Linked DNA regions of Homo sapiens: all the other regions are linked to region 1. The links come from fine-mapping of genetic effects on gene expression. A gene starts in region 1. Each other region holds a variant in brackets. All regions are shown on one strand. Distances are between the middles of the regions.

The links. PIP is the estimated chance that this variant, and not a neighbour inherited with it, causes the effect.
Region 2: its variant is the best candidate, but not a certain one, in a credible set for the expression of PNMA6A in whole blood (TOPMed, PIP 0.81).
Region 3: its variant is the best candidate, but not a certain one, in a credible set for the expression of PNMA6A in tibial artery (GTEx, PIP 0.59).

Annotation. Positions count from the first base shown.
Region 1 is chrX:153,070,961-153,073,718 of GRCh38, reverse strand. PNMA6A (PNMA family member 6A) reads right to left here and starts at 1,265. Exons shown (of 2, transcript NM_032882.6): 1 at 1,113-1,265; 2 at 1-784. The coding sequence starts at 656.
Region 2 is chrX:153,179,674-153,182,399 of GRCh38, reverse strand. It overlaps MAGEA1 (MAGE family member A1), which reads right to left. Exons shown (of 3, transcript NM_004988.5): 2 at 151-223; 3 at 1-75. The coding sequence starts at 10. Among named protein-coding and RNA genes, the nearest start is that of MAGEA1, 1.8 kb to the right of the region's middle. The variant C/T (reference allele first, on the strand shown) is at 944.
Region 3 is chrX:153,166,203-153,168,960 of GRCh38, reverse strand. No RefSeq gene overlaps it. Among named protein-coding and RNA genes, the nearest start is that of MAGEA1, 12 kb to the left of the region's middle. The variant C/A (reference allele first, on the strand shown) is at 1,284.

The DNA.
Region 1 (2,758 bases):
CTGGCGGGGTTCTCCGCCAGGAGCGCGTGCACGAGCTGCAGGGCGGTCCCACGCAAGCCTTCCAGCAGCCTCCTCCTCCTCTCCCTTTCCGAGACCCCCTGCCACACATGCAGCATTTCGGTGGTGTGGTCTAGCCAGACCTCAAAGGACTCCTCCCCTGGGGCTGGCTGGTCCCTCCCGGAAAACACGCCCAGGCTCTGGCACCTCACGGCCTCCACCCAGGGCTGGACCGCCTGACCGATGGATCGCAGCCAGCACACCCTGCGCAGCCCCACACCCAGGGCGCCGGCCACGCTCTCCACCATCTGCCCCTCTTGCTCCGGGAAGTGGAACACGCGACCGAGACCGAGAAACTCCTCGCCTGAGCAACGGGGCACAAAGACCACGTTCCACGGGCCCCCAGTGCCGGGGATTTCCCTGGGGACCAAAGCATAGTTGACTTCCCGGTCGAGCTCGACCAGGGCCGCGGTGGCATTATCCTCCTCTCGAAACGCTTTGCCTAGCACTGTAAAGTGTCCCATAGGCCTCAGGGCAGCCTCGAGGGACTCTTGGAATTCGGCATCATCACAGTCCTCCGGGATGCCCAGGATGAGCAGGCCCCTGCGAGCGTTGACCCCCATCCACCGGCACCAGTCCTGCAGCATGGTCACCGCCATGCCCGCGATTCTGGCCAGTGCCGGGCTGACACGAGGGGCAGGATAGGGTTCCCAGCGCGGACCAGGGTGGCACGGGGCGGCGGGGGTGTGGGGGGATGAACTGGGGTCGGAGCCCAGGTCTCCACAGCCTGTGAATGCGAGCGGGCGAGAGCGAGGTTAATGCCCACCCCTCCCCACGCCCACGTCCACGTCCACGTCCACTCCCACCCCCAGCCGCCCTCCTCCCCTGGCCGCGCCTCTGCAGCCAGGCCCCGCCCCTGTCCCGCCCCGCCCCCCCGGGGGGGTGGTCCCTGCGGGTCTTGGCCTCATCCCCGCGCCGCCCCCGGACCCCGGACCCCGGACCCCGGACCCCGGACCGCTGCCCCGCAGGCTGCTTCAGTTCTGTTAGGGCGGACAGGCGAGGGGCGGCGGAGTCTCCCGGGACCCAGCGTCCCCCTCCCCGGGTGGGTCTGATACCTTTTCCCGGGGCAGGGTCCCTCCTGGTCCGGGTCCCCACAGGGCGCGTCGGGGGCTGCGCGCCGCTGCGGCGGCGGCGGGGTCGGGCGCCCCTGGCTCCCCGCGCGGGCGTTCCCTCTGACTGTGCCTCTCCCTCGCTCGCTCGGCGTTTGGGCCGGTGCGCAGGCGCCTGCTCGCAGCCGCTCTCTGCAGTGCGGTCACGCGGCCGGGGTGCGGCGGCGGTGCAGCGCGGACCCCTCCGCGTCGCCGGCCCGGGAGAGCGCAGGGCCGTTGCCGCGGGCGGGTCACGTGGCCTGGCTCTCGCCGCCTTCCCGAGCGCCCCAGGACCCCGGGTGACGTCACCTGCTCCTATCCCCTAGCCCCACCCCCACTCCCCTCGCGCCGCGGGTCCCGGGAACACAGGCGCCAGCCCACCCCCACCCCCACCGGGGTGTCCAAAGGTCTGTGGGCCGCAGGTCCCAGCGCCTTTGGCTCTCACCACAGCGGTTCCTGGTCCAGGCCTCTGCCCCTCCCGCACGTGCCCCGGAGGCAGGCGCCAGCGGGGCGACGGGTGTGCACCCCGGCGTGCCCACCAGAGGGCCAGGGAGTGGTCTGAGGTGCGTCCGGCAGCTCTGCGTTCTGGCCAGGGTCAGGGAGCCGGGTTCTGGGGCCTGTGCACCTGCTCTTGTCCTCCCCCTCCCCGTCCAGGACTGGTCCTCTGGCTGGCAAGGCCAGGCGAGGCCAGGGGCACCTGGTGCGGGTGCCATTCCGTGGAGGAGATGCCCCAGGCGCTCACGCAGCTCACGCACACCATCCTACGGAGGGTCTGCCATCTCCCCGCTGCCCATCCGGCTTCAGGGACCCGCAGCCCTCCGGCCGAAGCACTTTGCTGCCCTGGTGCCAGGAGCCAGCACCTAGGAGGGTGACCCAGCACCCAAGTATGCCCGGGCCTCGTCCGTTTTGCAGCCGCAAGTCCCGAGTCTGGGTCTCTGCCTGAGTGTGTGCCTGGAAAGGTAGTCCGCGCGGAGTGGGCTACTCAATTTGTCCCCTGCCCCCTGTGCCCTCACCAGCCTGATGGGCTCTGGGACATTGCTCTCTTGGCCCTGAGGGCAGCATGGGTGTCGTACCTCCCTGGAGACCTCCGTCTGTCAGGGCCTGAGTCAGCCTTCCATAGGTCCTTCCCCAGTCCTCTGTTGCCGGGGCTAGACACTGCGCCAGGGCAGAGCAGCCTCCGCTCAAAACAGAGATTCTGCGCCCGTGGATCTGACCACCCTGCACCTGACCCATCATGGGAGGCTGGGGCCATGTGAACAGCATCTCCACCAGGCAGGTGGCAAACAGGTTCCCACGGGGTCACACCTCTGGGTGTCGTTCCCTCATCCCCTTCTCTTTCCTTGCCTGACCTCCTGTTTGGCAACTTGCTGGCCAAGGTTTCCCCCAAGCGTCCAGCTCGCCCAAGCTCCTTGCTGAATCACAGCCCCAGAGTATTTGTCTATGACCCTGGGGATGGACATTCCGGTCCTTCCCACTGTTTGGCTGTTGCAGACACTGCTGCCAGTGGCATCCCGCATGCCTGTCTGAGCCACCACCGTCAGCCAGAAAGACTCTGGGGTGCACAGCAGGCAGTGGCTCTGCTGGGACTTGGGCTGTGCCTATCAACGCCACAA
Region 2 (2,726 bases), 110 kb before region 1:
CAAGAGACATGATGACTCTCGTCAGGGCAGCAGGCAGGAGTGTGGGCAGGAGCTGGGCAATGAAGACCCACAGGCCTGGGGAGAGAGGGAGTGTGTGAGAGGCCTCAGCTGAGAACTGAACCTTGGAGACTCTAACAAAGGCCTACTTACAGATCTTCTCCTTGGTGCTCCTCTGTGGCCTCCAGGGAATCCTGTCCTCTGGGTTGGCCTGTCCCCTGAAAACCTGAAGGAGGAAGTGAGAGGGTACTCAGGGTACAGCCGGCCAGCAGAGGTCGATTCTACAGGACTGACAGTAGGGAGGTGAGGCCAGACTCTGTGGAGTCCTATGTGTCCTGTGGCAGGTGGGGCCCTTGGTGTGCATTCAGGGCAAACATTCACTGCTGGCACACCCTGTGCATCCTCTGCTCTGTGACCTGAGGATACTGTCTCAGACCAAGGCCTCACTGCCTGGTTCCTGGAGCTCCAGGAAGAGGAATCCACGGGCCCTCAGGGTGCAGACCGCAAGCACAGCCCTGGCTTCTCAGTGCTACCAGGAGGGTGGGCTGGACTCTGTGACATCCCCACTCTCATGCAGTGGATGACCCCCTCTGTTCTCACGCAGGGCCCTTATATTTTTCCTGGCAGGGCCTGGATCCTGCCCTTTTGCTGGTCTGAGAAATCCAAATCAAGAGTTCACATCCATGATAAGGAATGGAAGGACAGGAGGGGACAAACATCTGGCCACACGTGCCTAGGTCCTTGGGGAAGGGCAGCAAGAGATATCAAAATTCATTGGAATTAATGTGTCCTGGGTGAGGTGCCCGCTTGGTCCTCACCTTGACTCCTGGCAGGGCCTGGGACGCTCCCTCTACTGACCTGAGCGCAGCCTTCTCAGACCAAGGCCTCCCCGTCCCTGACATCAATGATCCCAGGATAACGGAAGGACCTCGGCAGACGGCCCAGC[C/T]CATGCTCTCTGGGGTGACAGCAGGGGCAGGGCTGATTTCTGTGCAGTCTCCCTCAGTGTTCTGGTCCTGGGGTACCCTCAGTCCTCCCTCATGTTCCTCACCCGAACGCATGGCAGATCCTGGGACCGCTCTGTCTTTAGACCAGATGGGGGTCCCTACGTTGACCTGAGTCACCCTCTGAGAATGAGGTCCTCACCTGCCCCAGATCTGGAAACAGGAGTGAAAAGAAGCCACATCCTGGGTGAGGTGTCCAGGGCTGACCCCTTTGGTTCTGGGGTGAGGATTCCAATAGCCTTGTCTGTCTCACTCATCTTTATTCCTGCCAGCGCCTGTGCTTCCTCAACCCCCAATTCCCTGACATGAGTAGACATCCCCCCTTTACCCCAAGACCCCATCTCCCTGAGGGCCCCCCAACTTCCTGCCTGTGGTACAAGTGAGAATGGAACATACCGCCATCCCTGATCTGGTCCCCCTAGAGCTACTAAAAGGGGACAGCCAGACTGTGTGGAGTCCCTTCTTTCTGAGCCGGGGATATCCCCAGTCCTCATGAAGGGGGCACATCTTGGGCCATATGGATCCTGGAACTCCTCCCTCTGTTGACCTGAGGCCCCACTTCTCAGACCACAGCTCTGTCCTGTCACCTCAAAGATGCAGGAAATATGGGCCATATGTGGCCACCGTGCCCTGGACCTCTCAGGGCCGAGGTCCACACTGATCTGGATTCCAAGGTCCCCTGAGTCCTCCCTCCTCTTCCTCCGCGTAAGCCTTGCAGGCCTGGGTCCCACCCCCATGCTAATCTGAGTCCCCATCATTCTGATTCTTGAGGCCAGAAGTGGCAGCCTCAGTCTCAGACAGGGGTGCGGTGTCCTAGGGTGCTGGGTCCTCTGAGGCCTCCCTCATCTCGCAGTAGGGCCCTCCCTCTGCTCCCCTGAGGCCCTGTTCAAGCCCCTTCCCTCCATCAGCCCTGGATGGGGACGTCAAGATCCGAGTGCCTGGCCGCCATTCCCGTGGCTTCCGTGGGTTGACAGCAGGGATTCTGACAAGATGAGGTTGGGGGTAGGGGGTAGGTATGGGAATGTGAGTGGGGTGGCGGTGGAGATGAGGAGACAGGTGTGGGTGGGGAACCCTCAGTTCCCTCCCAGGGTCCTGACCCTAATGCCGGGCGGATGCCTGGACCTTGATGCCTGGGCCCTGCCCTCTCCTGACCAACCCTGCCCCGGTCACATAAGCTATGACTACAGATTGCCCTGTGGGTTAAGTGGCAGTGGGACGGGACGGGGGGTGGTCCAGCTGAGACATCTGTCCTGGCCGGGTGGTCCAGGGCTGGCAGCAGGGGTGGTACTGGATCATTTTGGGGCCATCTACCTGGGGTGTGTGCCTCCTCAGTCCTCCCTCAGCATCTCACCTTGCCTCCTCACAGAGCCTAAAACCACTCCCCTCAGTGGATCTCAAGCCGCCCCTCAGAACCATTAAATGAACCTGGCTTCTCTCAGATCTGTGAGGTTCAAGTCAGTGGTTTCACATCGGGCCATCCAGGGCTTCCCTGGGTTGAGAGCAGGGGCAAACCGGATTCTGCCAGAATGGGGGAGGCGATGGGAGTGGGGCACATGAGAGAGATGAGGGTGGGGTTGGGGGCAGTGAGGGTGAGGTGGCAGAAGGGTTGGGGCTGGTGCTGGGGCTGGAGGGTGGTGGTCAGGTGACGGAGTAGGAGTAGGGATGGGGGTGGAGGTGTAGCTGAGGAGATGGGGGTTGGGTGGGGAATGGGAATGCGAATGGGGTGGG
Region 3 (2,758 bases), 95 kb before region 1:
TTGTCCTGCCCTTGACATACGGAGATTATGGGAATTATAATTCCAGGTGAGATTTGGGTGGGGACACAGAGCCAAACCATATGAGCTATCCAATTGTTCCAGACCCAATTGTTGAATACACTGCCATTTCTCTCCTCTCACCTTCATTTGCATCTTTATTAATAATTAGTTGTCTATATATGCATATACATGTGTATATACTATTGGGCTTTATTCCCTTCCATTGATATATTCTTATAATAATGATAATTCCGACTACACTGATCATTGTTAGTTTATAAGCCTTGAAATGAAGTAGGGTAACCCCACCACATTTGTTCTATTTTTTATTTATTTATTTATTTATTTATTTATTTATTTATTTATTATTATTATACTTTAAGTTTTAGGGTACATGTGCACAATGTGCAGGTTAGTTACACATGTATACATGTGCCATGCTGGTGCGCTGCACCCACTAACTCGTCATCTAGCATTAGGTATATCTCCCAATGCTATCCCTCCCCGCTTCCCCCACCCCACAACAGTCCCCAGAGTGTGATGTTCCCCTTCCTGTGTCCATGTGTTCTCATTGTTCAATTCCCACCTATGAGTGAGAATATGCGGTGTTTGGTTTTTTGTTCTTGCGATAGTTTACTGAGAACGATGATTTCCAATTTCATCCATGTCCCTACAAAGGACATGAACTCATCATTTTTTATGGCTGCATAGTATTCCATGGTGTATATGTGCCACATTTTCTTAATCCAGTCTATCCACTGTTGGACATTTGGGTTGGTTCCAAGTCTTTGCTATTGTGAATAATGCCGCAATAAACATACATGTGCATGTGTCTTTATAGCAGCATGATTTATAGTCCTTTGGGTATATACCCAGTAATGGGATGGCTGGGTCAAATGATATTTCTAGTTCTAGATCCCTGAGGAATAGCCACACTGACTTCCACAATGGTTGAACTAGTTTACAGTCCCACCAACAGTGTAAAAGTGTTCCTATTTCTCCACATCCTCTCCAGCACCTGTTGTTTCCTGACTTTTTAATGATTGCCATTCTAACTGGTGTGAAATGGTATCTCATTGTGGTTTTGATTTGCATTTCTCTGATGGCCAGTGATGGTGAGCATTTTTTCATATGTTTTTTGGCTGCATAAATGTCTTCTTTTGAGAAGTGTCTGTTCATGTCCTTTGCCCACTTTTTGATGGGGTTGTTTGTTTTTTTCTTGTAAATTTGTTTGAGTTCATTGTAGATTCTGGATATTAGCCCTTTGTCAGATGAGTAGGTTG[C/A]AAAAATTTTCTCCCATTTTGTGGGTTGCTTGTTCACTCTGATGGTAGTTTCTTTTGCTGTGCAGAAGCTCTTTAGTTTAATTAGATCCCATTTGTCAATTTTGGCTTTTGTTGCCATTGCTTTTGGTGTTTTAGACATGAAGTCCTTGCCCATGCCTATGTCCTGAATGGTAATGCCTAGGTTTTCTTCTAGGGTTTTTATGGTTTTAGGTCTAATGTTTATTTTTTAATGTTTTCTTTGGCTATTCTAGGACCTTTACATTTCTATATCAATGTTAGTGCTAGCCTCCCAATTTCTATTTTAAAAAATCTGGAATTTGGATTTTGATTGCATTGAATCTATCAAAAAAGTTGAGGAAAAATAAATGACATCTTAATATTCAGTTTTCTGACTCATGAATAAAGTTTGTATCTCTATTTACATATATCCTCATTGAATTTATCTTTGTAATGCTTTATAGTTTTCAATGGACAGATCTTCTACATCTTCTGTCATATTTATCCCTTTCAATTTATATTTTCTAATGTTAATTTAAATTGTACTATGTTTGTCTCAATTGCCAATTGTTTATTGCTATTATTAAAATACAAGTATAATGGTCTTAAATCCACCAACATTGCTAAAGTTGTATTCATTCTAGAAGCATTTTTACATTGATAGGATTGTCTGCATATACTCTTATATTATGTAAATGAGGAGGTTTTTTTTGTATTTGTTCCTTTCCAATTGTAAGGTCTTTTGAAAAAACTTTGTTACACTGGAGAGAACCTCAGGCACAGTGATGAACTATCCTACACAATCCCACCCTGCTCCATGAACTCATCAGTGTTAGGTTGTAGTTTCCTACATGTAAACATCCTGCGTGATTTCTGGCATGAGAAAATCTGCCTCATCCTCCCTACACTGCTAAAATCCAAGCCCCGGTACTACACCTACTGAGTATGGGTACTACACCTACTGAGAGGGTCATGACCTCACAGTTGATGGAATACTCATGTGATATCCAGTGGAGCAAATGTATTCACTGAAATTTGACAGCTTGAAAGCAGTGATTTCAGACAGGGGAAAACTGAAACCCCAGGATATCAGGGGAAATTCAGCCAGATGTCGGGCGAAATTCAGCCAGATATCAGGCAAAAATTTTCTGTTTTCTGTTTTCCCTAAGTGTCAGCCAGTCTGAGAAATGAAGGGACAGAGTCCAAAGAGAGAAATTTTAAAGTTGGGTGTCCGGGGGAGACATCACATGTCAGCAGGTTCCGTGATGCCCCACAAGCTGCAAAACCAGCAAGTTTTTATTAGTGATTTTCAAAAGGGGAGGGAGTACCAATAGGGTGTGGGTCACAGAGATCACGTGCTTCACAAGGTAATAGAATATCACAAGGCAAATGGAGGCAGGGTGAGATCACAGGACCACAGGACCACAGGACCCGGGCGAAATTAAAATTGCTAATGAAGTTTTGGGCATGCATTATGG